Homo sapiens: one gene and its partners. The protein of the gene in region 2 interacts with the protein of the main gene of each other region in a biochemical or structural test. Each region holds a gene or a part of one and is shown on either strand. Other genes may lie near its edges. The genes, in order: APLP1, APBB1, CYFIP2, CPSF6, DDX17, TSHZ1 and CHERP.

Region 1 (4,230 bases), on a different chromosome or scaffold from region 2:
AACCCAGGAACTGGGACCTCTAACACCCTCCGCCACCAGAACCGAGGAGTCTGGGCCACCAGCATCCTCTTCGCACTTGGGATCTAAGAATTTCATCCCCCAACCCCTTCCTCTAGAAGCAGGAATCCAGGCTCCCAGCCTCATCAACCCCCAACCCTGGCAGCCCAGTTCCCCATCTACCCCCTCCCATCCCACAATCCTGGCATCTGGGCCCACTCTTCCTACAGGCCTGCAGCTCCCAGGGCCTCATCCTGCACGGCTCGGGCATGCTCTTACCCTGTGGCTCGGATCGGTTCCGTGGTGTGGAGTATGTGTGCTGTCCCCCTCCAGGGACCCCCGACCCATCTGGGACAGCAGTTGGGTGAGTGGGAGGGAACCCTCCATGCCCATCTCAAGGTTCCTGAGGCAGGGGATGGAAGCCTGGGAGCCCAGGCCTGGGTTCTTACTGCCTGGGTCCTCTCCTGCTCCCTCAGTGACCCCTCCACCCGGTCCTGGCCCCCGGGGAGCAGAGTAGAGGGGGCTGAGGACGAGGAAGAGGAGGAATCCTTCCCACAGCCAGTAGATGATTACTTCGTGGAGCCTCCGCAGGCTGAAGAGGAAGAGGAAACGGTCCCACCCCCAAGCTCCCATACACTTGCAGTGGTCGGCAAAGGTGAGGCAGTCTCTGAACCCCTGGGGCCTCTCCACCATAGAGGGAGAAAGATCTGGGGGAGTCTTGCTGGGGGGTGTCTTTGGGAGGGGCCTATAGGGGAAAGGCCCAACTGAGGAGAAAAGACGAGAGTATCTTTGGATAAAATAGAAGTAGAAGGGCTAACCTGCCAAGGGAGGGGGTGGTTTGGGGGTACTTGGGAGTAGAGGGGCCATTGGGTAGGTCTTGAGGATCATTTCAGGAAAGCTTGGAAGATGGTGTAATGGATTCCTAAGCTTTGCAAGAACAGGCCCAGTCCAGAACTACATCTCCCATAATGCCAGGCAGCAGCGGTGGCTAAACTGGGTGCATGATGGTCTCCAGTGCACTCTAGGAAATGTGGTTCTCTAGGTAGAAAAGGCGACCTGGAGGTGGGCTGCAGACTGACCTCCTGATCCCTGGTCTTGCAGTCACTCCCACCCCGAGGCCCACAGACGGTGTGGATATTTACTTTGGCATGCCTGGGGAAATCAGTGAGCACGAGGGGTTCCTGAGGGCCAAGATGGACCTGGAGGAGCGTAGGATGCGCCAGATTAATGAGGTGATAATACTGGGGGCCCCAGGACCCCCTACAGTACAGAGCTCCCTAAATACCAGGAAATTCCTCCAGGACACATTGATACTACCTCCAAAGGCTCCCTAAGCCCCTTTGACCTTGAGCTCTCAACACCACCCCCTAAGATGGCCAGAGATCCATGGCCCTTCTAGAATCCCACTGAGACGCTACCAGGTTCTCTGGAAACTCTGGTCTATGGTACTCTTTCACTTTATTGGTTTTTTTTTTTTTCTTTTGTTGTTGTTGTTGTGACGGAGTTTCGCTCTTAACACCCAGGCTGGAGTGCAATGGTGCGATCTCGGCCCACTGCAACCTCTGCCTCCCGGGCTCCAGCGATTCCCCTTCCTCAGTCTCCTGAGTAGCTGGGATTACAGGCACCCACCACCACGCCCGGCTAATTTTTGTATTTTTAGTAGAGACAGGGTTTCACCATGTTGGCCAGGATGGTCTTGAACTCCCGGCGGGAGGAGATCCACCCGCCTCGGCCTCCCAAAGTGCTGGGATTACAGGCATGAGCCACCACGCCTGGCCTCTCTTTCACTTTAAACTCCTTCTGGATCTTCCCTCTTGGGAACCCAGGAGCCAGCGAGACTTAAGGGATCTGGGGCCTTTAAATCTTTTTTTTTTTTTTTTTTTGAGACAGAGTTTCGCTCTGTTGCCCAGGCTAGAGTGCAGTGACGTGATCTCCCACTCACTGCAAGCTCCACCTCCTGGGTTCACGCCATTCTCCTGCCTCAGCCTCCCGAGTAGCTGGGACTACTGGTACCCACCACAGCGCCCAGATAATTTTTTCTGTTTTCAGTAGAGACAGGGTTTCACCATGTTAGCCAGGATGGCCTCAATCTCCTGACCTTGTGATCCACCCACCTCGGCCTCCCAAAGTGCTGGGATTACAGGCATGAGCCACTGCGCCCAGCCATGGGGCTTCTAAAATCTTAAAGAGGGGTTGGGGGACTTGCCAGGTGGATCAGGGTGGATTCTGGGATCCTGAAGCTCCCCTCCCTATGCAGGTGATGCGTGAATGGGCCATGGCAGACAACCAGTCCAAGAACCTGCCTAAAGCCGACAGACAGGCCCTGAATGAGGTAGGACAGCCCCAGTGGGTCCTACTCATGCCTGTCCACCACCTGGAGCACACTCAGTTTCACCTGGCTCTGGCTGTGCCCTGCCCATCCAGTTCCACCCCTTCCCACCTATCTCAGCCTTTCCTGGCCCCATGCCTACATGCAGCTCTGCCCCTCTTAGCCGTCATCTGACCTGACACTGCTCTCCTCCCCAGATTGGCCATATTCGGCCCCATCTACAGACTTGACTTGCCTCTCAGGGCTGGCTCTGGAGTCCTGTCCCAAGCCAGGGCCTCTGCAGATGCAGCCAGGGCCTTCTTGGTCTCTCTTTGATGCATTTATGTCTCTATCAGGCCCCGCCCCCTGATTCTGGCTCTGCTGGGCCAATCTCACCTTTATTAACCTGACCTACCCCATGGAGACCCCACTCATGTTAGCCCCCATTCCAGCTCTTTGTCCCACCCCTATCGTGTCATTTATACACAGCCTGTCTCCAGTTTGACCCTGCCCAGGCCAGGAGCCCTGCAAGGCTTTGTCCCTTTCACCTTAACATTGGTCAGTTCTGCTCCCAGATTGCTCCCACTCAATCTTACAGTTTACATCCTCACATTGGCTCCCAGTGGGCCTAGTCCCACCTCCACTCTGCCTGGCCCTGTAGCCCACCCCTTCCAGTCCATAACCTTTGGTTCTGCCCAGGCCTGGACCCCTGGAACGCCCCCCAACCCCATGTAGCCCTGCCTTTCCAGGCTCTCTTTGACCAGGCTTTGACCCATCTTCTCCTCTCCTGACCCTGTGCCCACCCGCTCCCCAGCACTTCCAGTCCATTCTGCAGACTCTGGAGGAGCAGGTGTCTGGTGAGCGACAGCGCCTGGTGGAAACCCACGCCACCCGCGTCATCGCCCTTATCAACGACCAGCGCCGGGCTGCCTTGGAGGGCTTCCTGGCAGCCCTGCAGGCAGATCCGCCTCAGGTGCGGGGACCGTGGGGGCAGAGAGCAGAGGGTGAGAAGGGTCAGGGCGGGCTTGGGCATCCTGTGTCCCTTCCACAGGCGGAGCGTGTCCTGTTGGCCCTGCGGCGCTACCTGCGTGCGGAGCAGAAGGAACAGAGGCACACGCTGCGCCACTACCAGCATGTGGCCGCCGTGGATCCCGAGAAGGCACAGCAGATGCGCTTCCAGGTGCTCACATCCTTCCAGCTCCCAAATGCGCCGCTATTCCTCAGACGCCCGCGCCTCAGGCTCTTCTCTTGTCCCTTAGACCCTCTTTCTGTCTCTTGGACCCCTTCCTATCCCCTGAACACCGCTTCTCTGCCCCTTCCCAGTCTCTCAGCTCAGCTTCCTGACCCTGAAACATGGACCCTCACATGCTGTGTCTTTGACCCCTGCTTCTTGGCCCTTGGATTCCTACTCCCCCCGCCGTCGATCCTATGTTCTGTCCCTTGGATTTTCACTGCCTTTCCCAGAATCGTCTTTTTTTTTTTTTTTTTTTTGAGACAGGTTCTTGCTCTGTCGCCCAGGCAGGAGAGCAGTGTGCGATCTTGGCTCATTGCAACTTCCACCTCCTGGGTTCAAGCAATTCTCCTGCCTCAGCCTCTCGAGTAGCTGGGATTACAGGAGCCTGCCACCACACTGGGCTAATTTTTTTTTTTTTTTTTGACAGAGTCTCGCTCTGTTTCCCAGGCTGGAGTGCAGTGACATGATCTGGGCTCACTGCAACCTCCGCCTACTGGGTTCAAGCTATTCTCCTGCCTCAGCCTCCTGAGTAGCTGGGACTACAGGCGGGTGTCACCACATCTGGCTGATTTTTGTATTTTTAGTAGAGACAGGGTTTCACCATACTGGTCAGGCTGGTCTTGAACTCGACCTCAGGTGATCCACCCTTGGCCTCCTAAAGTACTCGGATTACAGGTGTGAGCCACCACGC
Region 2 (4,230 bases):
ATAAGCCACCATGCCCAGCCAATGTTTGTGTTTTTTGTAGAGACAGGGTTTCACCATGTTAACCAGGCTGTTTCTGAACTCCTGGCCTCAAGCAATCCACCCACCTTAGCCTTTCAAAATGCTGGGATTACAGGCGTGAGCCACTGTGCCCAGGCTCAATCCAGCCTTTTTTTGGCAGGATATTTAATGATATTAAAGAATTATTATTAAATTTTTGTAGGTACAATAATGATATTGTGGTGGGTTTTTTTTTTAAGAGTTTTATCTTTCAGAAATGCAAAAGTAAACTGTTGTTGTTGTTGTTGAGAAAGGGTCTCTCTCTGCCATCCAGGCTGGAATGCAGTGGCTCAATCATGGCTCACTGTAGTCTCGACTTTCTTGGGTTCGGATGATCCTCTCAGGTCAGTCACCTGAGTAGCTGAGACCACAGTGGCTGATGCCTCCACTCCCGGCTAATTTTTTTGTCTTTTTTATAGAGGAGAGGTTTTGCCATGTTGCTCAGACTGGTCTTGAACTCTTGGGCTCAAGCAATCTACCCATTTTAGCCTTCTAAAATGCTGGGATTACAGGTGTGAGCCACTGCACCCAGCTGTAAACATTTATAGATAAAAGTATTTGCTTCAGAATAACCTACGCTGGGCCTAGGAACGGAAGAGAGCATGCAGGTAGCAAGATTAGTTATGTATTGATAATTGGTAAAACTGGCTCGTGGGTAAATCAGGCTCATTATTCTTTTCTCTCTATTTTTGTGTATGTTTGAAAATGTCCAGAATGAGTTTTTCGAAAGGGGATGGTGTGCAGCCCTAGGCTCATCTGAACTGCATGTTCTCCACAAAGATTGCACAGTTTGGGGTATGGGTATTGTGTCCGCCACCTGGTAAGGATAGGGGTCTTTCCTAATCTTTCTTAGACCTCCATCTACAAAACTCCAGGGTTTTGGTTGTAACTATAGCCCATTATCTCCACTCTTTGTTCCTCAGCTTTTCCTGTATTCGCTACACGACATTAGAAAATGTGGAGACTCAGCTTAATTTAAATGGACATATTTAATGATTAAGCCCTGGAGTCCTAGTATCTATTCTCCTCCCCCTACCCAAAGGGTTTTCTTTTCTAACTTTTAGTCAATATCCTACTCCTGACAAAACTGTATCCTTGCAATGGTGCTGGAGCATGTGGATTATAAGCACACAACATTCCCAGTCTTTCCAAACAGACCTCTGTGGGGAGCTGCTGGCTGCTCCCAACAGGCGTGACCTGTTAAAACGGGGCAGACTGGCGACAGAGTGAGACTCTGTCTCAAAAAAAAAAAAAACGGGGCCGACTGTCCCAAGTGCACCTGAGTGCATTGTGCTCTATGCATTGGCGGCAGCATAACACGGGGCCAAGAGCTCAGGCCTGGACTGAGACCTGGTTTAGATTTCAGCTCTATTGTAATCTCAGCCTGTCTGTGGTCTCGAGAAAGCTACTAAACCTCTCTGGATCTCTTTTTTGTTATCTGTAATATGGGAATCATCATAATATTTACCTCACAGCTTTATTGTAAGGATAAAGCCTGAAAATGCTGAGCAGAGGGCCAGTTACCTAGTCAGTGCCCAGTAAACTAGTCCACTTATCAACCATGGTGGCATGCATAATGAATAGATCCATCCATCCGGGCATGCATGATGGTCAGATCTACCAGAATGTCCAAGCACTCTCTGAATGAAAAAGCCTGGACATGGCCTGCTGTGGCCTCAGGGTATGGGCTCTCAGCTCACATCAGGCTGGCACTGGCCTCTGTATGAGAGTCCTAACCTCTGCCCTCACACCCTCCCACATGCCCATGTCAAGCTCCACAAGGTACCTGTGTCCTCTGGGGAGCCATAGGAGGGGCTGCCCTGGGATAAGGTAGCCCAGCTTGAGTCCTCATCACTGGCTGCACTGTTCCGCATGCCAAACAGGAGGCTGGCACTCTTGCTGTGTTCCCGGGGGCCATCTGTAAGGGCTTGGGGCCTGGGAGGGGCCTCCACACTCTCCAGGGGCTCAGGCAGCCCTGGGGGAGAAGATAAGTCCTCCTCCTCCTCTTCATCATCATCATCCTCCTCCTCCTCCTCGGCCTCCCCGGCCGCCTTCTCCTCTCCCTCATCTGGCCCCTGCTCTTGAGTGCTGATGATCAGGCCAGGTCCTCGTAGGCCTCGGTTGGCTGCGTTGTGAGCTGAGAGCTCCAGCTCAGAGTACAGGTGTATCAGGCCTTTGGGGCCCAAGGGTGCCATCTCAGGCTCCTGGCTGGCCTCCTCCGCCAAGGTCAAGGTCACATTGCGATTCTGGTCACGGTGGGCCGTGGCGGCCCGCCGGAGCTGGTTCTGGCCCTCTTTTAGCCACTTGGCATTGGCAGGGCCTGGCTCAGGCCCACCACCCTCCCCCATGGCGCTGCGCAGGTCCTTGGGTCCCACAGCTGTGGCCTGCAGCTTGGCGTTGAGCAGCTGGTTGTGGGCAGCGTGCAGAGGCAGGGGTAGGCTCAGTGCGGGGCCTCCGTGGCTGTTGGCATTAATGGCCGACTGGCTCAGTGATGATGGAACAGACATGGCCTTGGCAGCTCCTGTGGGGTGCGGAGGGGAGATGCTGTTGAGCCTCTGGTCCAGAACAGCAGCATCACTGCTTCTGCCCCAGGGCTATGCCCTGTGCCTCCTCATCTCCCTGCACTAAGCAGGCTAGCACCCATGGCTCTCTATCCTATGAGAATGACTGGGTTCAACTTCTGTCCCAGCACTATCATCCCCATCACAGTCCAGGCCCAGGTCTGAGGCCCACCCCATCCCTATATCCCCTGCCCTGAGCTTTCTGGGATGGCACAGCTGGCGCCTGCCCTCGGTCCCACCAGCAAGGCCTCCACACAATGGCTCTCTGTGCCTCCCCACCCCCCAGCTCATCCACCCGGGGCTTACTGTGCCAGGAACACCACTAGAGTGGGACCGGCTCGTGTGTTTTGGACACTGATCACTGACTGCCCCTCTCCGGCCGCACTTCCATCCCAAGCCCCATCACTGTAAGCTCCTCCGGCTGTGTTCCTATTCCCATAAATCACTCAGCTCAACCAGCCCCCAAGCCCACCCCATACTAGGGACTGTGAGGACAGGAGCAAATAAGCTGCAGAACCAGCCCTACAGGGCATGGCACTGGAAGGCAGGTCACAGAGGGAGGGCGCTCGGCTGCAATTCATGGCTTCTCTGGCCAGATGAAGCTACATCTTGGTGACAATTTCCATGAAGTAGCTCCCCTTGGGCACTGGTCCCTCTGCCAGCCCTCATAATGCCCTGTCCTGGATCACTATGGGAGCCTTTCCCCTGGGCCCCTCAGCCTTTCAGATCTTTGTTTTTTGGGGGTTGTTTGTCTGTTTGTTTGTTTTTGAGACAGAATCTTGCTCTTGTTGCCCAGGCTGGAGTGCAATGGCACAATCTTGGCTCACTGCAACCTCTGCCTCTCGGGTTCAAGTGATTCTCCTGCCTCAGCCTCCTGAGTAGCTGTGATTACAGGTGCCCACCACCACGCCCAGGTAATTTTTGTATTTTTAGTAGAGACGGGGCTTCACCATGTTGGTCAGGCTGATCTCAAACTCCTGACCTCGTGATCCGCCCACTTCGGCCTCCCAAAGTGCTGGGATTACAGGCATGAGCCACTGCGTCCGGCCCAGCCTTTCAGATCTTTGACCAAATGTCACAGCCTCAGTGAAGCCTTCCCTGAACACCCATTTTAAAACCACAGGCTACCTCCGCCCCTCCTCAGCAATCCCTAAACTCTTCCCCAGCGCCTGTCACCATCTGACAAGCCAATTTATTATTTACTTTGTCTAATGATTGTCTCCTCATGACTATAATTTATAATTTCCATGTTGGTGAGGATTTTGCCTTTTTGGTTAAATACAGTATGCCTAGTGCCTAGCGTAGTCCTGGCACAGAGCAGGAACTCCATTAATATTTGCTGAATGAATGTATGAATCAGTCCCCATTTCCTCCAGGCTTCGCTTTGGCATCTCCTCTGCCAGTGTCAGAAAACACTTTGGTTACGTTACTATGCCTTATGGTGCCCCAAACAAACTCCACCTGCCTCTCAGGTAAGAGGACGTCCTGTTCCGCAAGGACAGCTCCCCCTCCAGACCCCTCCCTCTGCCTCCTCACAGCCCTTCGTGGGTCAGTTTCTCCGCAACCATTTGAGTCCCAACTATCCTTCCAGCCCGCCACCCAGGGACCCACC
Region 3 (4,230 bases), on a different chromosome or scaffold from region 2:
CTTGAGAGGCAGTGGTTGTGGGCTGGTGGGGGAGAAGAGGAGGCAGTGATGTTTTAGAGCTTTAGATGCCCCTATAGTTCCCATCCCTCTCCTACAAAGCCATCACTCTCCTACAAAACCTGCAACCTAAGCATGAAAAGTACGCTCGTGGCCGGGCGCAGAGGCTCATGCCTATAATACCAGCACTTTGGGAGGCTGAGGCAGGCAGATCACTTGAGGTCAGGAGTTTGAGCCCAGCCTGGCCAACATGGCGAAACCCCGTCTCTACTAAAAATACCAAAAAATAATAATAATAATAAATTAAAAAAATAAATAATTAGCCGGGCACAGTGGTGCATGTCTGTAATCCCAGCTACTCGGGAGGCTGAAGCAGAAGGATTCTTTGAACCTGGGTGGCAGAGGTTGCGGTGAGCTGAGATCACACGACTGCACTCCAGCCTGAACCTGGGAAGCGGAGGTTGCGGTGAGCTGAGATAGTGCCACTGCACTCCAACCTGGGCAACAGAGCAAGACTCCGTCTCAAAAAAAAAAAAAAAAGTGTGTTCATTATACAAACACAGTGTCAAGACAGGCCCCCGAGTGCCCACTTTCAACTGGATTGTGGCTCCTTGACTCCTCGCGTGTGATAATTGCCAGATCCCATACAGTTTAGAGACCTTGAAGGCCCTTCCCGGGCTACTCTCTAATGGAGAAGTTTGTACTGTTTGTTACAATCACTCTTGTCAATGCCAGCAGACATATGAAGACTCATGTTCCTGAGATACTACTCTTCCTCTGCTCTGGACATACATCTTACTAAAAGGAGAGGAAGTGTGAAGAACACAGGACTGGGATGCAGCTCGAGAGCCTCCCCTGCTGGCAGCAGCAAGTACTAATTAGCGCTTGGTTGCGGCTGAGTAGCAAAAGTCTAGCATCCGTGTGTCTGTATGTACGTATTCTTGTTTTTGATCCCGCTCTACTAAGGACTTTATGACAAATTAGCCACAAGTATCTCCTGGACAAATTTAGCTAAGTCAGAACAGCTGAGTTGAACCTGGCCTTTCCTAGCTCCAAAAGCCCACTGGAAAGTGTATGTGTTTTTTCCTTGGTGGTGATATGTGCCCCTTAGGGTCAACGGTCACGTCCCTTTGCAATGCCTGGCTTGGTGGTCTTAGCGGCTCTGAGAGCCCTCATCCCCTCCTCCCATGCCTTAGCAGGGATGGGATGCAGCTCACCACTGATGTTGAGCAGATGTGTGAAGAAGAAGGACTGTTTGTGAAAGTCCTCTATGGCGAGGACAATGGGTCCATCCAGGCTGCTCCTCAGGGTCTTCTTGGAGCCGCTTTTGTCTGCAATGAGTGATTCAAGCATGGTCCGCACCATGTACAGCTTGAAAAAGAAAGCAAGATGAGAAGGTCAGAAGCTGGCCCTCTACCCCGGGGAAAAAGGTTGCTTCATGTTGTATTTATGTATTTTTTTTTTTCTGCAGATGTCTGCTCTTAAAAAGCACTGTCCTAAGGAAGCACCAGTTTAAGGTTTGAGAAATAAATGTGGAACTGTGAAAACCTTCATGGCCAACCCGGGCCCCGTGGCATCCCTGGGCCAGTGGACCTGGCCACACCAGGTAGCTCCCTGCTCTGCTTGGCCAAGGGCGTGTATATCAGAGGAGAACCTCATTACGTGTCACCCTGGAGTCACTCCCTGCTTTCCCAGAGGGCCACAGATGCCATGGGTGGAGCACTGGACTGGGAGTCAAAAGACCGGGGTTCAAGGCCAGGCACTGCTGCTGATTTGCTGTGTGACCTTAGGCAACAAAGCCCCCACTCTGGGCCTCAGTTGTCTCATGTAACATGAGGGGGTTGGACCAGATGCCTTCTCACACCAGTCCCTTTCAGCACTAACATTCTGAGGAACTGAGAAATGGGATAAGATCAGAACGAACCCCCTCCCACACCTGTTCCTGACCCTCAGCGTTTTGACCCCATGGCTGAGCGATGGCGCCCCCTTGGTGGCATCAGCTGCACTGCACAGCCTGCTGAAGTTCAGGGTGGAAGGCGGGTTAACATTGGTACTTACACAGGAGGCTACTAGACAATTAACTCCCGCTTACAGGGTGCCTTAAGTGCAAAGGATGCAAGTGCGGTGGGGTGGTTCTCTTTGCTAATCTAGATCTCTCCACATCATTTGTCTGTGAATCTTAGGGCTGGAAGGGGCCTTGAGGAGCCAGGCTAGTCCATTCCTGCTGCCTCCTCGAGAAGGGTACCCAAACCAACCCAGCCAGGCGGTGTGATACCAGGGATCGGCAGCCTCTTCGGCCCTGTGTGCCACCAGTGGGGTGAAACAAAGCCCTCGGGGACCACTGGCAGGCCTAAGACATAGATAGGAGAGAAGGAAGAGGGAATGGGAGGGCAGGAGAGACAGGGAAGAGGGAGAGAGAGAAAGAGAGAGAGAGAGAGAAAAGCAAGAGGTATTGTATACGGTGGGAAAGCCGCCGCGACTGCCGGGGGCCACCTCTGAGACACTCCAACCTCCCAGCAACCGCGTTCGTCTTCGCTGCCTCTGGAGCTTCCCTGGGATCTCCCCCATCACATGCCTGGCACTGATGCGGGTAGAGCAGCCACAGAAACGTGTGACCCACCATCCCTGCCACAGGGCTTCCTTTGTGGGAAAGCAGCCACAGTGGCCGTCAGTGCCTCAGACAGTCCCCCATCTGCAGCCCTGTTGGAGGGCCTGTCTCACCATCCCTAGGAGCCGAGAAGCACTCTTCTCATGACGGCCTCTCAAGTCCTCAAAGGAAGAATCCAAGTCTAATCTGTTGTGGGTGCTGTCCAGTTGATATCCAACTCTAATTCTCTGAAAACTGGTTTCACCCATAAGAAGGTGAACTTTTTTCCCACGTACTTTTACTTAACAGAGCATTTAATTCACCAAAACAGTCTCTATCCCAACTATGCAAGATGCCCATGTCTACTGTGTCCTGAAGACCGTACCAGAGCCCTGGGTGGGTGTCAGGAGACCTGGGTTCTTGTCCCACCTCCACCTGGGACTCACCTTGTGACTTGGACAAGTCACTTCCCCTCTCTAGACCTCAGTTTCCCCATCCGCAAGAGAGGGGGAGGGCCTAGGTTTCTCTAATAGCGCTCCCAGCTCTGGTTGTCTACGAGTCTATTCAACATGTCTGTGCCACCTAGCATGACCTGGTAGAGGTTGGGGGTGAGGCGGGATTTACTGCTGGTGACCCACCCCTCTCACATTATCTACACAAATACTCCTTCCTCTCCTCTCCTTTTCTCTCTGCCTGTTAAGTCCCCTCCTCCTCCTTTCCAGTGTCTTTTGTGCCTTGTCTGTCTCTTGCTCACTCATGTCTTAAAATTTACAGAAACACTTGAAAGCCCTGCTCAGTGTCTCCCGGACCTCAACCCTTGATATTACACAGAACTGTTTGCAGACGCTTCCTTGGGGCGTTCTACAACCAGCCGGTGAGATTGGTGCAAACTAGCAGAGGGCTGTGAAGCCAAGGGGAGTTAAGATGACCCTGCCGAGAACCCACCTCTCCCCTGCCCCAGCCCCCAGCACAGACACAGACGCACACACAGGGAGAAGGGTCGGGGGTGGGCCTCAGATGGTCCATCTTGGGTGACTGAGAACAGAGAGAGGCTTAAAGGTCATGGGAAGTGAGGCCTGTGAGACCCTTAAACTTGCAATGAGAACCATCTGCTTTTTCCAGTACATCAAAAATATTACCAGAAACTACCTATCCTTAAGTAGGTAGCAGGGATTTAACGAAGATGCCCAGATTATTGACTTTTTTTTCTGTAACGTTATGACTGCTCTGGATAAGCCACGGGCGACCTCTTGTGCAGAAGCTCTGGCTGGCAACTCTGAGTGTTTCCAAATACTAGACTTCCTCTAAGGGGACAAGGGCTTTCAATACTTGCACTTTTGGAAGGATGTGGAACTAAGGAATATTTTGTTAGTAACACAATCTCATCCAAAGTTTTCATTTTACAGAGAAGATAATCAGAGCTCAGAAAGCTCAAGGTGCTTGCCCAAGATCACACAGCAAGTCAGAGGCAGAACTTTTAGGGGAAAGGGCCAGGACTTATTAAAGAGGGGCAGCATAGATGCATGCAGATAGATTCCACTTTAACCTCCTCCTCCACTTTGGAATCTATACTTCATAGGACTAGAAGATAGCCAGGCAAGGTGGATGTGGTGGTATTATCCCCATTAGCCAGTTTAAACAACTGA
Region 4 (5,020 bases), on a different chromosome or scaffold from region 2:
TGACCTCACAGGGTAGGGACGAGAGTCTCAACTAATTCAACACAAATAGGGATTGATCAATGGAAACATACAACAAACAGTAACAGGAAATCTAACAAAAATCTGAACCACAATTTTAGTGGAGGCATGGAAAGGGATCCCAGTGATGGTAGTATTATTTCTCATGTTCATATTCACTTGTTTAGAACTGTTACCTTTAATACTCTGAAGCTTGCAGGTAAGAAATCTGAGGCCTGATATTAATACCTGGCACAGAAATATCTACTGAAATCACTGAAACTGAAGTCTGTTACTGTTTCAAAAGTACCCCATAATGTTTCCAAGCTAACCAGTAAAATATTTTTGCTACAAACATTTTTACTTAAGTCTAGTAAGGTTAATGATCCTCTAAAACTAGACAAATGCTTTCTGAATCTTCCATTTAAAAACCATGTAACAGCCTGGAAATCTGTCAGGCCTCTTAATCCTAATTTTAGCCCAATTATCAGTCGCTTTAAAGAGCACCAAAATGTCAATACACAAGAAAACCACCACTATCTGGCTTAAAGATAGAATACAGACAACAGTCCAATTTCTGCTATACTGCATATTGCCAATAAACATTAACTACTTAAAACCATACACAATGGTTACCAAATAACAAATTAAACAAAAAAGACAAACTGCAAAGTCTTATCAAAAGTTTGTTTTATTTTCAATACAAGATAAATACCATGCTTGTTACTAGTGCAGTTTAAGGCCGACAATGGCCATATATCAAACTGCCGAACAGTCACCTAAATGCTAAAGAAAGGAAAGACAAAGTAAACATTAAACACAAAATTGCAATTACAAACATTTTAATAAAATGGAATGAGCTTTTTAATTGAAGCTAATATGAAGTCTAATTCTCATGGACAGCAAAAAAAAAAAAAAAAAAGTCTATTAGATCAATTATCACCTTACCTTTTTGCACAGAAATCTTATTGTGAAGTCACCATAGAGTCAATAGCTAAAATTTTAAGACTTTCTTTGGCCTTCTGATATTAAACAAATTATTTACAAACTGTGATCAGTAATTCGTGGATATTGGTAAAATGATACAATTTTTTGTTGTTGTTGTTAAGGGCTTTCCATTAAAAATTGTAAAACAACTTTGTAAGGCTGTACAGGGCTGTAAACTACTTTGCTAATATACCATGGGATGCAGAGGAAGGAATAATAGACCTTTTTTTTAAGGCTAAAGTTATCAATGTTATAGATGCATTCCTTAAAATACATTATGATTTATACCCAAAGGATCCTTTCCCATTAAATACCACCTGAGTACTACAATTTTCAAAGTAAAAAAATAAACATGAATTCACCATAGTTATTTTAAAATAATTTAACTTACAGAATGTTGAGAAGTGTTACGCAGTAACAGTGCGACAAAAAGAACACACTTTCAAAACAAAATGTTTTCGCTAAATGCAGGGTCTGTCCAATTATGAAATTAATGTAAAACATTTACACCCATGGCAGAGTTTTAGGATACTCCCACGTGAAAAAAACTCTTGGTAGTATTTACTATGCAGTTACCACTTCAAGATGTGTGTGACTTCAATTAAATTCAACCTAGTATTTAAAAGACTCCATTACAATATGTTAATACAGCAGGAAGTCTTTAAAGACATTAAAATCTGTCGTATATAATCAAGTATTTATACGTCCCATACAAAAACCATAGTAGCTGCATACTCAGTGAATGCCACAACCTGAAATTCTAAAAAAAGAACATTGGTTAAGACAAACCTAAATCAATCTGAACAGTGTTGCCTGAATATTTAGAATATTCACAAAAATTCATATTGCTTCTTTCTAATGCCAAGAAAGAAGAGTATAAGAACTTCCTCCCAGAAGCCTAGACATTTTAATACATTTTCTATTTCAACTTACAATGAAACTTTAATCCTGAATCTTGATTTATCTAAATCAAAAATCTCACATTACGAACACAAGGAATGCCATATGTAAGGCCACATCTTAATAAATTTATAATTTTTGGTTGAATATTTATTGAAAAAATCAGTCTAAGGCTTCTAAGAGTCAAGTTGCTTAAAAAAATAAATACACCAGTGTTTAAACTGAAGTTAAGGTTAAAAAAACGCATACACACACACACACACACACACACACACTGTAAGAACAGAAAAATAGAATGCTTTGCTACAAAAATCCCACTTAATATATTTTAGCACAAAAATGTCTAATATACACTGGATAAGCGTGCATTTACGTACATACAACTAGGGGAAACATTTACAGAGGGCTACGGGATGCAAATGAACTTAATGAGTAATAAAAACCAGTTGTTATCTGTAAAACAGAGAATCTCAATACTGTATTCTCAGTCAAGAATTAGAACATAAACTTCCTCTTAAGCTGAAGCTTAAAACACAAAATTGGAGCCATTTTAGAAAATACAGAAAATGCAATGATCATTCAGGTATGAAAACCAAAATGTCGAGAGCACTCCAACAGAAAAGTCTTGTAATGCATCTCATTGTATAAAACAGTATGTATTTAGATTGGCACAGTTAAATACATAAGGGAAAGAGAAAGTCTTTGCCCTTTCCACAATTTTCCTTCACTATAAAATATTATACAACATTCATTAAAACCTCCATGTTTATTTTAATAACTGACCTGAAACTAGTAAAAAATAAAGCAATATTCTCCACAGGAGAATTAAATGAAAATAGTATCTTAAGCTACAAGTTATCTGTGTATTCCAAATTGTCATTAACTGCTTAAGAACATTCTAGGTAAAAGGACCATTAAATGGGCTAAACTATGATCAAAAGCCACTGCAACTTACTCCAAACCTTATGAAAAGTGACAAAAAAAAAAAACACACATCTGCAAATTTACACTGGAATATGCTTTCCACAACATAGTTCCTTTAACCAAAAGCAGCACTTTCAATCCAAAGTGTTGCCTCAGAAGCAGTACCATTCAGGTACTGTATCACTCATCTGTTTAACTTTACTACTGGCTGAAAGGAATGTGACTGTATAGCACTAATAAATGCTATGTTTTAAAATTCAACTCGTTTGTTTTCACATCCACTACAGTTATTAACTAAGGAAAAAATGAAAAGGTCTCTGAGACACTGTTTTTGGTGTCTATGCAAGGATTTATCTCTTTGGATTGTTTTTACACATTAAAAAAAGGAAGAGTTTTCAAATAACATTAACCCATAAACAACTGAAGGGGGTATGAAGAACAAAACAAGGCCTGCAATTTTCACCTTTACTGCTATACATTCACGTGTTATCAGGTAGAGAAGGACTTTGCAAAATTACTTGGTCAAACCAAGAAGTTATTTCCTTCTGACAACACTTAAAATAACGGATTAGCAGCAAACAAATCTAGTACACTCACACTGTCTGTAACGAAAGTCATGTAATGAGATCAGCCAAGCAAGGAGAAGAGTGATATAGAAGGAGCAATTAAAAGGTTCCATTGATAAAATATGAAAAGGTAAATAAAGGATTTAATTAGTATAAAATTTCCAGTTTCATTTCAAGTGCAGTTAGATTTTTGTGATTCCATTTTTAAACTGTTCAAAGAAAATTTTATTTTCATGGACATTTTACTTACCTTTTAACCCTTTACTATTAACTAATTTCTCTTGTAATATTTATATGTCCATACTTCTTCGCATTAGGGCATTGTAGTCAAAATATTAAAAAGCCAAGAAATGACACAACAATATACAGAAAACAGGAAAATTTTGATACAACTCTAAAATAATGTTAAAAAAGCAACCGCATTTTCAACAAAATGCTTTAAAAAATCATTTCTGAAAGTGAACAGTTCTGATAAACATCAACGATCCCATGCACAGATACTTCAAACACAAAATATTTTAAAATAAAACTGGCAGTGATATGGGTAATTCAAAACAGCTAATTTTGTCAGAAGTGGTTTGATAGCAGACAAGATGAAAGTGAAGAACAGCAGTGGAAATTTCTGGAGGGTTTCTACAGTTGCACATAACACAGTATCTAGGGTATTTTAACACTTTAAGCATTGTCCTAGAATTTGGGTACTCTTTAACAACCAATGTGTATTAACAGAAGATCTCTCAAAGATAATCAGATCTTAAAAACATATTAACGTGCTCAAGAATTTTAAGTCAAATTTCTGAAGTAGTGATTTCAAATTACATTCCCATAAAAACACCTAATCAAGTTGACACCCTGCCTCTGCCAATTTTGCAATCAAGAACACATGCTAGTCAGGTGCTTTTAAAGTGGGCCTATATGTAAGGCAGGTTTGAAAAAAATCTTTGATTAAGTAACTATAGCATGAATCAATACGGTGCATGAATATACATAGTATTCCTTAAACTGTGCAGACACGGTTTATCTGTAATTTCCCATTACAAATACTGGGGAATACAACCGAATGTTAATGAACATCACATCCTTCAAAAATTTATACCAATTGGAAAATATAAGGCTCTCTTTACTCACATTTACCTGCTGCAGGGCTGTATTTACACTGACTATGGCTTAAGAAATAAACCATAAGATCAATAAAAACAGCAAGTAATTGCAGCATCAAATCGGAATTGTCAAAATTTCTTCAATGTTAGCGGTTCACAATTAAGTGTTTCGGTACATCTGTGTTGTAATTAACCTGCATTACACATCAAATATGTACGGGTTTTTACTTATGTGTTAAAACCTCTGTTTTTTTGACCCCTTACACATTGACTAGATTGCTATGTCTGTCAAATCTCTATTTTTACAAGTTTACATACCATTCAGCAAAGTCACAAGCTAACTAGGTAAAAACAGCTAGAAAAGCAGAATATAGAAATATTAAATATCCATGTAATCACCTATTCTAATATCAAAATCAAGGGCAAAAGACACTTAATTACTATGTTTAATTCACTGAACGCAAGATTAGATTGAGGCATATCCAAAAACGCTATTGCAATGCTTTAAAGGACAGTAAAAATGTTGTCATAGTAACATTATCTTTA
Region 5 (3,917 bases), on a different chromosome or scaffold from region 2:
GTGGGCAGAAGAAACCTGGCAGTGAATTCTAACTAATCTGCATGAAAAGACAAATCACGATGGTTGGGGGGAAAAATTAAAAAAAAAAAAAGAAAAAAGGAAAAAAAAAGAAAAGGCGAAGAGGAAAAAAAAAGGAAAGACAGTGTTCCTTAAAATGTAATTAAGTCTGCTGGAGTCACTACCACTTGAGTGGTTTCATTTACGTGAAGGAGGAGGAGGGGGAGGAGGAGGAGGGTATTGGTAGGCAGTCTGCCCCATGTAACCTATCATATTGGTAGCTCCCGGAGGCTGTGCAAACTGTTGTGACATCAGTGGCTGTGGCTGCTGCCCAGACCGGCCTATCCCACTAAACTGCTGGCTAGAGCTCTGTGAACTTCTCCCAGTTGAGGTGGTGCTACTAGCTCCATAAGTGCCAGCACCATATTCTTGAGCTGTATAGCTACTGGTGCCATAAGCAGCTGCCCCATAGGTGCCTTGACCATAGGTGTATTGGCCTGCTTGTGCTCCAAAGGCAGAATTTGGACTTCCATAGCCACTGCCATTAGCATAACCAGCTCTATCGGTTTCACTACGATCCCGATAGCTTGCAGAGTCTCTCCGGCCACCATCCTTGACTCCTCGAAGCCTTCGGTCACACTCATCCTGATACATCAGATTGGGATTGTTGGCTGAAGAAGTGGTCCGGTAACGAGAACGACCACCTAATGGGAAGATACAAGAAGATTTTTAATGGCAGATATAGGACCTAAACATAACAATGTAAAAATTCTACTGGGTACAAAAGTATTAAACATGTCTCCTTGATATTTAGTTATGCTGGCCAGCCTCCCAATTAGTACTGTAAAAATATACTCATAATTTGATTCTTTAATGGGGCACATTCAAAAGCACAGTAAAAATTAAAGGACACTAGACCTTTTCACCCTTTTAGGCCCCTTACTTGAGGATGATCAAGAAACACGGTATTACAATATGAAACCTTGAGTCAGGAAGCCCAGATCCTAGGATATTCTGCAACTGTAGATGCAACTGCTATGTCTCAGTTTCTACCCACCACTAAACAGTGTAAAATGACTGACCTCTCCGTATGGAAAACTGGAAACCTAATATACTACTAAGCATTTTTGAAAGTATTAAAAAAGCAACCATGACCGGGGGCACACTGGCTCACTCTCGTAATCCCAGCACTTTGGGAGATCAAGGCAGGAGGGTCACTTGAGGTCAGCAGTTCAAGACCAGCCAACATGGTGAAACCCTGTCTCTACAAAAAATACAAAAATTAGCTGGACATGGTGGCACATACCTGTAGTACCAGCTACTTGGGAGGCTGAAGCAGGAGAATCACTTGAACCCAGGAGGCAGAGGTTGAAGTGAGCCGAGATCGTGCCACTGCACTCCAGTCTGGGCAACAGAGTGAGACTGTCTCTGCCCCCGCCCCGCCAAAGCAACCACATTAAAACTCAGACCAGCCTCAGCTAGGTTTGGTGGCTCACTCCTGTAATCTCAGCACTTTGGGAGGCCAAGACAGGTGGATCACCAGAGGTCAGGAGTTCGAGACCAGCCAGGCCAACATGGTGAAACTCCACAGACCAGCCTCAGCTAGGTTTGGTGGCTCACTCCTGTAATCTCAGCACTTTGGGAGGCCAAGACAGGTGGATCACCAGAGGTCAGGAGTTCGAGACCAGCCAGGCCAACATGGTGAAACTCCACCTCTACTAAAAATACAAAAATTAGCAGGGTGTGCTGGCGGGTGCCTGTAATCCCAGCTACTTGGGAGGCTGAGGCAGGAGAATCACTTGAACCTGGGAGGCAGAGGTTGCAATGAGCTGAGATCGCGCCATTGCACTTCAGCCTGGGCGACAGAGCAAGACTCCGTCTCAAAACAAACAAACAAACAAAACCAAACCTCAGACCAGTCTCTAAGAAAAAAAAATTCACAATTTAGCTTAACTAATAGGACTATCACAACAAACTTCACGTTTTCTTAGTTGAAAAAGGTTATAAAAAGCATTAGGCAGTGTCCTTTGCTATTAAGCAACATACTTACAGCCTTCTTAAAAACAGCAACTAAAAGCAAGTCACAGAAGGCGTAAAGAGATACCTTGGCAGTACCTGGAAAACTCCAGGACTTACCCTTACCCCCGCCTCCGCCGCCTCCTCTGTGGTCCACAAGCTGCATCAGTTTTGGATTGATAGCCTGATTGGCCTCTTCCAGCACTTTGATAAGCTCTCTGGCCTGTTTTAGGTTCCCTGGGGTGAAGAAGGTATAGGCGGTACCCTTGTTGGTGCTACGGGCTGTTCGGCCAATACGGTGCACATAATCCTCTGAGCTGTTTGGATAGTCATAGTTGATCACAAACTTGACATCTTCCACATCTTCCACGTCAATGATGAGTCAGTGTGTAGGTTGATGTGGCAGGGAAAGAGAAGGTAAAGGACATGCCAACAACAGGTGGGAAGCACGAATGCAGATGACAGCAAGAGGAAAGAAGGTGAAGTTAGTAACCACTCTGAACAGAAACAAAAAAAGACTCATCCCAACAGAGTAAAAGAGGATTACTGATTCCTGGGACATGCATAGGAAATAGGATCTTTATTGGCTGTAGAATCCTAAGGGAATCCCATCCAAACATCCAAACTCCTGCCTCTGCTACATTTTACCAATATACTGACAGGAGTTACACCAATATTGGTCTTCAGACGCAAATTCCAGTACTATCCTTTACAAAACCAGAACATAGAACAAAGTGGTAAACCACTGTGAAGTTATGAGGCCAAATCACTTCTACTCTGTTGGGAGAAGCCTGGCAAAATCTACCAACAACATAACAAACTTACCTTTAAACCAGTCACAGAGCAAAGTAAAAAAAGGAGCTTCATATATTTTATTACTACAATTTAAAGGAAACTTAAATGTTTTGATTAACATTTAACTTTTTTTGCTCTTATCTTTTTAAGAAACTGAGTAGAGCCAAAGCTGTTAAGTACACACCTATTTTCCTTTGCAGAAACATCCAGATTATCTATCCCCTTTCAATTACAAGAGCACATTACACTAAAATTTTACTGTACTACCAAGCCCAGCTTCTGCCAAAATGAGGATATTTTTGCTCAACTCAAGGTTATTTCAACTCAGGACTTGTTTCAATTATCAATGATTGTCTACGTGACCTGGGAAATTAAATTAATAGCCAAAGAACGTGGGAAAACCATGAAACCTTGAGACACAAGTTTAGTATTCTCTCTACTGCTGGGAATTGGGCTGAATAACCTCCTAAGGCTTAAAATGTAAATGTTAGTGTAATGCTTTCAGCTGAATGTATATTTTTACCTACTTAAACAAACAATTTTAAGAATATAACAAAGAATCCTACTGTTTTGTGGAAAAAAATCTGCATTTTACAAAGAATATTCAGAAAATATCCTAGATAAAACACAGATTTTTGTGATATAAATAATTAAAAAACATTCTCTGTTTGTTACCAGACCGATGCACACTCCCTCCTCCTTTGGGAAACCGCTGCAGCCGATCCCGTCTCTTTGCCTTTTATTTTTGGCGGCCTCCTTTCGAAAACTCCGCCTTCTGACACGGGACCACTGGAGCGCGGGGAGCATGCATCAAGGGTCCGTGGCAGTGAGAAGTCCCCACACACGCTCGCTCTGTGAACTGGCTTAGATGCTTCTCTGTAGCCCCATTTGGTTGCCAAGCGCCGGAGAACCTGGGTTCGGGTAAAAATTTCAGGTCCTCCAACGCCTCCCCCAAGGATAATTGGGGTGATTGTAGAAAAAAATAATTAATAAAAAAAAATGTAAGTTACATCCAAAGGGTCAGACTGCATCTATTGCCCAGACTGGATTAATTTCAAGGGAGAAAGGGGAGATTAAAAAAAAAAAATTAGCTGTTGTTACAGGGCTTG
Region 6 (4,054 bases), on a different chromosome or scaffold from region 2:
CATTTGGGGTGTGAACGTCCAGCGGTCCCTCCTTTTTGGCCTTCCCAGTCTCGGCCTCAGGGCCCTTCTTCTGTGGTTTGCCGCTGACTTCCTCCGTTTTCGGGAAATCTTTATTCTCTTTTGCTATGGGGGACGCAGCCTTGGCCAGGGAGCTCTTCTCCTTCTCAGGGGGTCTCTCCTCCTTCTTGATGTTGACCTTGCCCGTGACCTTCTCCACCAGCTCCTCCATGGCAGACACGTTGCTCTTGTGCGGTGGGGGCGTGAGGCTCCCTGGGGAGTGCAGGAGGGCGTTGTGCTCGGCGGAAGACAGCGACTTCACGCCGCCAGCATAGGACGGCTGCACCTGCACGCTCTGCACGGCCGCCGGCAGTGGCTTCACGGTGCCCGGGAGCTGGTAGGCTGCATGGATGCTGGGGTAGCCACCCCATGAGGGCGCACCATTCTGAGCTTTGCTAATGGCCGTGGAGACGGTATTCTCCAGGGACTTGAGAATGTCCAGCCCTCCCTTGGGGCTGTCGTCCAGGTCCTCCTCACGCAGGTACGGGTACAGGGTGCTGGGCTCAAATTTCTCCAAGCTGTCCTCACTCTCCTCCTTGATCTTCTCCGCGTCGCCAGCCACAGGCGGCTTCTCCTTCTCTGGCTCTTTCTTTTCTTCAGAAGTCGTGGACCCCGCGGGAGAGTCGGGCTGCTTTTTGATGCTGGAGGCCGGCAGCCGCGTGTGGGTGGTGGGCGGTAGTGGGATGGACTGGATCTTCTCTTCCACCACAGGGTCCAGCACCAACTGCTTGCCCTTCTTAGAAGCCGAGGTGGTCACTTTCAGGAAGTGCCCGGTGACCATCATGTGGGCGGTGAGCTGCTGCAGCGTGTCGTGGGAGCTGCCACACTCCATGCACTTGAGGATCTGCGCCTTGCGGGCCTCAAACTGCCAGGTGTAGCTGGCGCCATTCTGGTAGCCATAGCGGTTATTGGGCGTGACGTACGGGTTCGCTGCTTTCTGATCCTTGGCTGACTCACTCAGGGCCACCTCTGCGGCCATTCCTGCTGGCTCAGGGGAGCAGGGGGGCGCCAGGTCCTGAAGCGCCCGCTTTTTGGTGGAGGGGACCAGTTTGGTGATGGCTGGCACTGGCTCCTTCAGAGGCACTTTCTGGTAATGCTTGGTTTTGATCATGTGGACGCTGAGGTCCTGCAAGGACTCAAAGGAGTGTCCACAGTACATGCACTTCAGCACCTTCTGGGCATCCTCCTTCCCCTCCATCTCCATCAGGGAGCGCTTCCTGGGCTTGGACCACCTCTTGGTCTTCTCGGAGTCCTTGTCCCTGTTGTCGTCACGGTAGTGGCCTGTCTCGTTCATGTGCACCGTCAGTTCCACCAGCGTGTCGTACGCGGCACTGCAGTCTTTGCACCGGAACTTGCTGGCGCCCGTGAAGACGGAGCCGTAGAGCTTGTTGTTCTGGCGGTAGAGCTGCACGGTGCTGAACAGGCTGGGCTCAGGAAGCAGCCCATACGAGGACGTCTGCTGCAGCGTCTTGGCCAGTGCAGCCTGGTGCCAGTCGTACCCGGAGCTGCTGCTGGTACTGGTGGTACTGCTGTGGCTGGTGCTGGAGCTGCAGCTGGTGCTGGGCGTGCTCGTGGTGGGGCCAGTGGTGCTGACGGGGCAGGTGGGGGGTGTGGGGGTGGGGGCGGAGCTCTCCTTCTGGCTGGCATCGTTGGTGCTGGTGGTGGAACCCGACTTCTTTAAATCCAGAGCTAAGCTGGACCAGCAGGACTCGGAGAACAAGTTTGCATACACAGCTTTGATCTGTGCCAGGCTGTCCTGGGGGTACGAGACGCTGTCGGGACACTGCGGATCCTCCTTCTCTTCTCGAGAGGAAGAGCCTTTGAAATGGGCTAGCTGGTCGCTGCTCTCACTGAAGGGCGACCCGTAGCCGGCGTCCTGGTTAGTCGCAGAGCTGACTGGGGAGTTCTGGTAGCTCTGCGCCTCTTTGATCTCCGTCTCTTCATTGCACATGTACTCACTTTCCTGAATGTCCAAAGACAGCCCGTCATCCTCCACGTGCTCTTCATCTATTTCTGCTGCCTTCAATTCTTCCTCAGGAACATAAGCTAGGAGAGAAAAATGAAACCCAGTTAGAAGAAGTAAATCATCTTCAAAGAGACAGCCTCCCCAGCAGTTAGATGATCTTTAAAAAGATATTTGTCAGCCTAGCCCCCAGGACACAAGGCTACCCCAAGTTTACATATCTACCCCTTTGCAGGAGTTAGGTTTCAAAAGGTGCTGTCCCCTCCTGAGTGTGTCTTTAGCAAAGGGGACTGAGCTGGAGGATGATGTCCTGTGCTCGTCCCAAAGATGTCAGTTTGACCCTTGCAGCCTGGTGGGAAGGGCAGGAACTTGGGACTCCAGCCACCACCTGCCAAGTACCCCTCCTATAGGCTGTTCCCTCTGTAAGTGACCCAGGAGTCCCCTCATGACTTCCATATGGCAAATATTTGTAAACACCCATCGGGCAGGACCTGGTTATCAATTTTTAGAGCAGGATATTCACAGACAGTATATCGTTTCCATAAGTAAAAACACTCCTCAATGGCAAGCAATGAAAACACTCTGGTCTTCACCAAAAGCACCAACATGGCACCGCCAATCTCCTGCCTGGCAGAGCAAAGCGCCACCCGCATGGGGCTGCCAGACGGCAAAAGCCACGGTTGTTCACCAAGGCCCAGAGCAGCCTCATTGACTGCAGCCAAAAGCTGGAAGGCACCAAAAGGTCCAGTGACAGTTGGAGGGATGAACGCGGTGTGGCCCGTCCACACTCAGGCTTGGAAAGGGAGTTCTGACACGCACTGCAGCGCGGACGCACCTCGAGGGCATAGTGCTCGGTGAAGGCAGCCAGACACAAGAGGACATGTACTGCATGGCTCACCTCACGTGAGGGCCCTAGAGTTGCCACATTCATAGAAAAAGAAAGCAGAGTGGTGGCGTGTGCCAGGAGAAGGAGGGGATGGGGACAGAGTTTCCATCTGGGAAGACGAGAAAGTTCTGGAGATGGAGGGTGGTGATGGCTGCACATCAATATGAACGTTCTTAACGCCATGAAACTGTGCACTTAAAATGGTTAAAATGGTCACTTATACATTATAAATATTTTATCACAATAAAAGCTGTTTAATTACAAAAGCCCAACGGTCCACGCTCCAGCTGCCTACTACAGGCCCACGACTGCACAGCGGAGCGACTTCATGGGCTGAAGGCAGCGTTTCCCAGAGGGGCCTCCAGGATATGGAAGTTGTCCCATGGATGAGGCTGGAAGGCAGAGAAACCGAGATGAAACCTGGACTTGTGACTGCAGGACATGTCAGATCCTTCACTATGCAACACACCTTCCTAACTCCCAAGGGGAGACTACTGCAAGGAACACTGCCTCAGCTTCTTTGACCAAGGCACTTTTACTTACTTTTCCCGTCTCGAGGCAACAACTAGCTGGACTACAGTTCCATCAACAACTTGGGGTATTTGGGGTTCAGATATTTTGCAGAAAATCCCTATTAAAATGCATTCATCTGACCTGAGAGGGGTGTCTCATTAAATATCATCATTCATGATGACATCATCAGAGCCAGGGCCTGAGGGAACACGACAAGGAGCACAGACGTTTTCAGGGAGGACTGCTGGGAGGGACAGAAAACATCTTGGCCGCCCAAAGGGAGGATGCCAGGGGCAGCAGGGAGCAGTGTGAGAGCCTCAAAACCCGCAAATGCAGGGCTTCAGATTCTAGCAGCAGCCAGCACTCACAGGCACACGCATAATCACATGTGTACACACAAGCACACGCACACACACACACACAATGAGAGACGACTGAATCGGTCATGTGGAGAATCTTCTAGTTCAGGCCATCCCGAGTGCTTGCACACACTGCCCTTTTCTGCACACGACAATCTGCGCACCTGTGTTCACGCATTTCATGGAGGTATGTGGAAAAGCAGCAAAGCCAGGAATCACAATCCTGTTCACACTGTACTGTGAGTGTGGAAAATAACCAATCATGTAAGACCCCAG
Region 7 (4,230 bases), on a different chromosome or scaffold from region 2:
CTCGGGTCCTGCCCTCCCTCTCACAGGATCCCAGCCTCAGCATTCCATCTTCGGGCCGTCCCCTCCTCGGAGAACCTAGGAAGTCCCCTGGCCGCTCTCTCGCCAGCACCATCCAGTCCTTGCGCAGTGTCCTTCCGGTGCAAGCTAAGCTTGCCTGCCCACCTCCTCACCCACCTAGGCCCCACCTGATGCAGAACCCAGGCCTCAGTACCTCTCATCCTCCGACCTCCTCGGCCACTCCCTGACCTCTGCCACTTAAGCTACCCATTGACTGTTAAGATGTCACAGCCACCGGGCCTCTGCACATCTGGCCAGAAAGGCACGAAGCCGCACCCCCGAGCGCACACTGCGGCCTCCCCCACACCTGCCTTGTCCTTCTACTGACTCTCCTTGCTTCTCCAGCCCTTGGGGACAGAGACCCCTCTGCATTCAGGGGTGCATCCAGTTTGAGGCAGCAGTGAGACACCCATTCTGCCGGCAGAAGCCTGGGTCAGGGTGGGCGCAGGTCCCAACTCTGGCCAGATGGGGCAGGTGGTGAGGTCTCTGAGGAAGGGACCCGGCTCATAAGGAGGCCCTGGACAAGATGACCTGCCTCTCTCTCCGTCTTGGGGCCGCCTGGTCTAAATGTGACCAGGTACCCCTGGAGCCCTCCAGAGCCCCACTCCAAGGGGACCAGGACAAAGCCAAAGATAAGGGAGGTGGGGTGTCAGGTGGAAGGTGTCGCCCCTCACTGGGCGCTCAAGTCAAGTCTCGGGGCTGACTGTGCCCTCCAGTTTGTGCACCCAAAGCCACCCTACAGGATGACCCCCAACTTCTGCACTGAATCCCACCCCTCCCACTGTCTGAGGGACACTGCTTATTGATATTTCTTCTATCTCTTATTTCTCCAACTCCTCCCTCTTTACCCGTCCCTCCCCAGCAGCATCTAAACACATTGGGCTGGGCATGATGGCTCACGCCTATAATCCCAGCACTTTGGGAGGACAAGGCGGGTGATCACCTGAGGTCAGGAGTTCGAGACCAGCCTGGCCAACATGGCCCTGTCTCTACTGAAAATGCAAAAAATTAGTCGGGCGTGGTGGCGGGCACCTGTAATCCCAGCTACCTGAGAGGCTGAGGCAGGAGAATTGCTTGAGCTTGCAAGGTGGAGGTTGCAGTGAGCCGAGATGGCGCCACTGCACTCCAGTGTGGGTGACAGAGTGAGACTCCATCTCAAAAAATAAAAAAGGAAATAAATAAACACATCAGAATATTCTGGGTTGGAAACTTCTCCCTTTACCCCATGATCCCTCTCTAAACGATTTCTCAGACAAGACTCACTCCAGATCTTCACCTCCCCTTTATCTCAGCCTGGTGCCTGCTTGCCACTCCCCGCACCCCCCTCCTTCCCCCAGGCAGCTGAGGACACCCTCACTCAACTCAGCCCCCCGGGCCTGTCGCAGGTGCTTGCCTCCCTTGGCCTCCATGTGTTCGCCCCCTCAGTCCCTTTCTCCCCCTTTACCAACCCCTCTCCCGTTGGACCCTCACATGCTGGGGTGCGCGGCCTGTGTTCTGAGCCCTGTCCTCCGCTCTACGCAACCGCCGGGCAACATGAGCTACTCATTCCTGTGGCTGCGATTGTGCATGGTGTGATTCCTAAATCCATCATCTCCATTCTGGATTCCTGAGCTTTGGCCCTAACCACCAACTGCACGGCCCACTGTGTTTCCAAGGGGCCTGTGTTTCCTCTCACCCCCTACACCTATGTCCCCTCCTGTGCTCCCCGCACCATGGTTGGCACCACCATCTGCCCAGAAACCCAGGCCAGAAGTAGCATGTGCCTCCCAGTGACGAGCCACATAGTGTCAAGGCGGCCTCCGAGACATCACTCCAATCAGTCTATGTCCCCGCTGTCACCACCATGGATCTGCTGTCACCTGCGTCACCCCAGAACCGGTCTTCCTGCATCAGGTCCCATCCCTCTACCTCTTTTTGACATGGCAGTCATGGTATTGCCACTTATGGAGTGGTCCCTGGGCTACCCAGCGGTGACAGACGGTTATGGAACCAGAAAGGGAGCATTTCAAAACCTTTCTAGCAGCGTGATGGTTCACGGTCCACATTGTTACTGTGCTTTGCAGAAGTTTTGGTCCACACACAACAGGTTAGAAACTTAAAACACAACACCAGAAATGGTCCTTCACCACAGAGTTCGTGAAGCTCCATTCTACAACAGTTGAGGCCCAGGCTTTAAGGCGTGGGGTGCAGAACTGGCTGTACTGTGGCTAACCCAGCTTCACAACACAGACCTAAACCTTCCACGAGTCTCTCCCACGCTTCCAGGATACACTCCTCACTCCTCTCCAAGCCAGGTCCCCGACTCCTCCCCAAGCCAGGCCTCCAACTCCTCCCCAAGCCAGGCTCCCAATTCTGCACCCCCACCTCTGGCCACTCCAAGAACCCCTCCTACTCTGGGCTTCAGCCACCCTAAGCTCTGGGTTCCCCATTCCCTCCAAGGGCTCCTTCCTCTGCCCGGAACACTTTTCTCCCCTTGTTTTCACCTGGCCAACTCCAACACACCCTTTACATCTAGCCAAGATATCATCACCCACAGAAAGCACTTCTTGGCTGGGTACGATGGCTCACGCCTGTAATCCCAGCACTTTGGGAAGCCAAGGTGGGCGGATCATGAGTTCAAGAGATCAAGACCATCCTGGCCAACATGGTGAAACCACATCTCTACTAAAAATACAAAAATTAGCTGGGTGTGGTGGCGCACGCCTGTAGTCCCAGCTACTTGGGAGGCTGAGGCAGGAGAATCGCTTGAATCTGGGAGGCAGAGGTTGCAGTGAGCCAAGATCTTGCCACTGTACTCCAGCCTGGGCAACAAGAGCAAGACTCCATCTCCAAAAAAAAAAGAAAGCACTTCTTGGCTTCAATCTTCCTGGGCTATAAGCATAAGCACCCTCTCCTTCCTCATAATGGCACCAGCTTCCAAGTGGCCACCCCCCCGCCCCAGAAAGGGAAAGCAGCCCTTAGCTCAGTCACCCAAGCCAAAGCACCGTCTGAGGTGTCTTCCTCCCCTGCTCATTACACCATCAGGTCGTCAATATGCAACTGGCGCCCAAGTTCATGGATTCTACCCCTTCACCCCACCTGCCCCCCATGCTCCCTCCCTCAGGCTCAACCTACTGACTTAATTCAGACCCCACCATCTCTCACCTAAACAACTGCCCTGTTTGCTCCCCTGCAGGCCTCACTGCTCCCCAGGCTGGTCCCTGTAGCTTGTCCTACACCACCGGCCACACAACCCAAGCCACCCTCTCCCTTGTTTAAAACTCTTGTGGCTTCCCGCTGCCTTTAGAAACGGTTTTTTTTTTTTTTTTTTTGAGACGGAGTCTCGCTCTGTCGCCCAGGCTGGAGTGCAGTGGTGCGATCTCGGCTCACTGCAAGCTCTGCCTCCCAGGTTCACGCCATTCTCCTGCCTCAGCCTCCCAAGTAGCTGGGACTACAGGCGCCCGCTACCACGCCTGGCTAATTTTTTGTATTTTTAGTAGAGACGGGGTTTCACCGTGTTAGCCAGGATGGTCTCGATCTCCTGACCTCGTGATCCGCCCGCCTCGGCCTCCCAAAGTGCTGGGATTACAGGCGTGAGCCACCGCGCCCGGCCTAGCAACGGTTTTAAACTTGGTGTGCTGGGGCTAAGGAAGGATCGCTCTAGAAACACATAAGCACATACAATATTTTGCTTACGATTTCAGGCAGCTGATCTCTCTCCACCCCACCCCCGCATCTCAAACCTAAATAGGCATCAGAAAAACCCCTGGATTGAGTGAAAAAACCCAAACTTTTCCCCTGGCAGTTAACACTCCAGGTCAAACTCTTCCCTCATACAAGCACATTCTTTTATTAAATAGATTCTCTACTATGTCACCCAGGCTGGAGTGCAGTGGCTATTTACAGGCGTGAGGCCACTACTGATCGGCACAGGAGTTTCGACCTGCTCCATTTCTGACCTGGGCCAGTTCACCACCCCTTAGACAGTCGAGTGGTCCCCAGCTCCCAGGGGGTCACCATACTGACACTGAACTTACTGCACACACTCAATCGACACAGCGCACTACAGCCCTGAACTCCCGGGCTCAAGCAACCCTCCAGCCTCAGCCTCTTGAGTAGCTGGGGGTACGGTGTGTGCCACTGTGCCTGGCAATACACACATAAACTCTCTCTCTGTTTCTTGTTCAAGAAACT

The links.
Region 1: the proteins of APBB1 (region 2) and APLP1 form a complex in vitro, tested with the Homo sapiens proteins (one study listed by BioGRID).
Region 3: the proteins of APBB1 (region 2) and CYFIP2 form a complex in vitro, tested with the Homo sapiens proteins (one study listed by BioGRID).
Region 4: the proteins of APBB1 (region 2) and CPSF6 form a complex in vitro, tested with the Homo sapiens proteins (one study listed by BioGRID).
Region 5: the proteins of APBB1 (region 2) and DDX17 form a complex in vitro, tested with the Homo sapiens proteins (one study listed by BioGRID).
Region 6: the proteins of APBB1 (region 2) and TSHZ1 form a complex in vitro, tested with the Homo sapiens proteins (one study listed by BioGRID).
Region 7: the proteins of APBB1 (region 2) and CHERP form a complex in vitro, tested with the Homo sapiens proteins (one study listed by BioGRID).

The regions. Positions count from the first base shown.
Region 1 is NC_000019.10:35,871,385-35,875,614, forward strand, and holds part of APLP1 (amyloid beta precursor like protein 1 isoform 1 precursor), read left to right. Parts: intron 1-227; coding exon 228-361; intron 362-473; coding exon 474-652; intron 653-1,098; coding exon 1,099-1,229; intron 1,230-2,254; coding exon 2,255-2,329; intron 2,330-3,119; coding exon 3,120-3,278; intron 3,279-3,356; coding exon 3,357-3,485; intron 3,486-4,230. UniProt on the Homo sapiens protein: May play a role in postsynaptic function. The C-terminal gamma-secretase processed fragment, ALID1, activates transcription activation through APBB1 (Fe65) binding. Couples to JIP signal transduction through C-terminal binding.
Region 2 is NC_000011.10:6,408,784-6,413,013, forward strand, and holds part of APBB1 (amyloid beta precursor protein binding family B member 1), read right to left. Parts: intron 2,579-4,230; 5' UTR 2,565-2,578; coding exon 1,844-2,564; intron 1-1,843. UniProt on the Homo sapiens protein: Transcription coregulator that can have both coactivator and corepressor functions. Adapter protein that forms a transcriptionally active complex with the gamma-secretase-derived amyloid precursor protein (APP) intracellular domain.
Region 3 is NC_000005.10:157,321,059-157,325,288, reverse strand, and holds part of CYFIP2 (cytoplasmic FMR1-interacting protein 2), read right to left. Parts: intron 2,348-4,230; coding exon of another isoform or gene 2,273-2,347; intron 1,369-2,272; coding exon 1,215-1,368; intron 1-1,214. UniProt on the Homo sapiens protein: Involved in T-cell adhesion and p53/TP53-dependent induction of apoptosis. Does not bind RNA. As component of the WAVE1 complex, required for BDNF-NTRK2 endocytic trafficking and signaling from early endosomes.
Region 4 is NC_000012.12:69,270,009-69,275,028, reverse strand, and holds the end of CPSF6 (cleavage and polyadenylation specificity factor subunit 6), read right to left. Parts: 3' UTR 671-5,020; downstream 1-670. UniProt on the Homo sapiens protein: Component of the cleavage factor Im (CFIm) complex that functions as an activator of the pre-mRNA 3'-end cleavage and polyadenylation processing required for the maturation of pre-mRNA into functional mRNAs.
Region 5 is NC_000022.11:38,485,740-38,489,656, forward strand, and holds part of DDX17 (probable ATP-dependent RNA helicase DDX17 isoform 1 precursor), read right to left. Parts: intron 2,377-3,917; coding exon 2,140-2,376; coding exon of another isoform or gene 2,134-2,139; intron 702-2,133; coding exon 196-701; 3' UTR 1-195. UniProt on the Homo sapiens protein: As an RNA helicase, unwinds RNA and alters RNA structures through ATP binding and hydrolysis.
Region 6 is NC_000018.10:75,283,497-75,287,550, reverse strand, and holds part of TSHZ1 (teashirt homolog 1), read right to left. Parts: intron 2,104-4,054; coding exon 1-2,103. UniProt on the Homo sapiens protein: Probable transcriptional regulator involved in developmental processes. May act as a transcriptional repressor.
Region 7 is NC_000019.10:16,535,798-16,540,027, forward strand, and holds part of CHERP (calcium homeostasis endoplasmic reticulum protein), read right to left. Parts: intron 1-4,230. UniProt on the Homo sapiens protein: Involved in calcium homeostasis, growth and proliferation.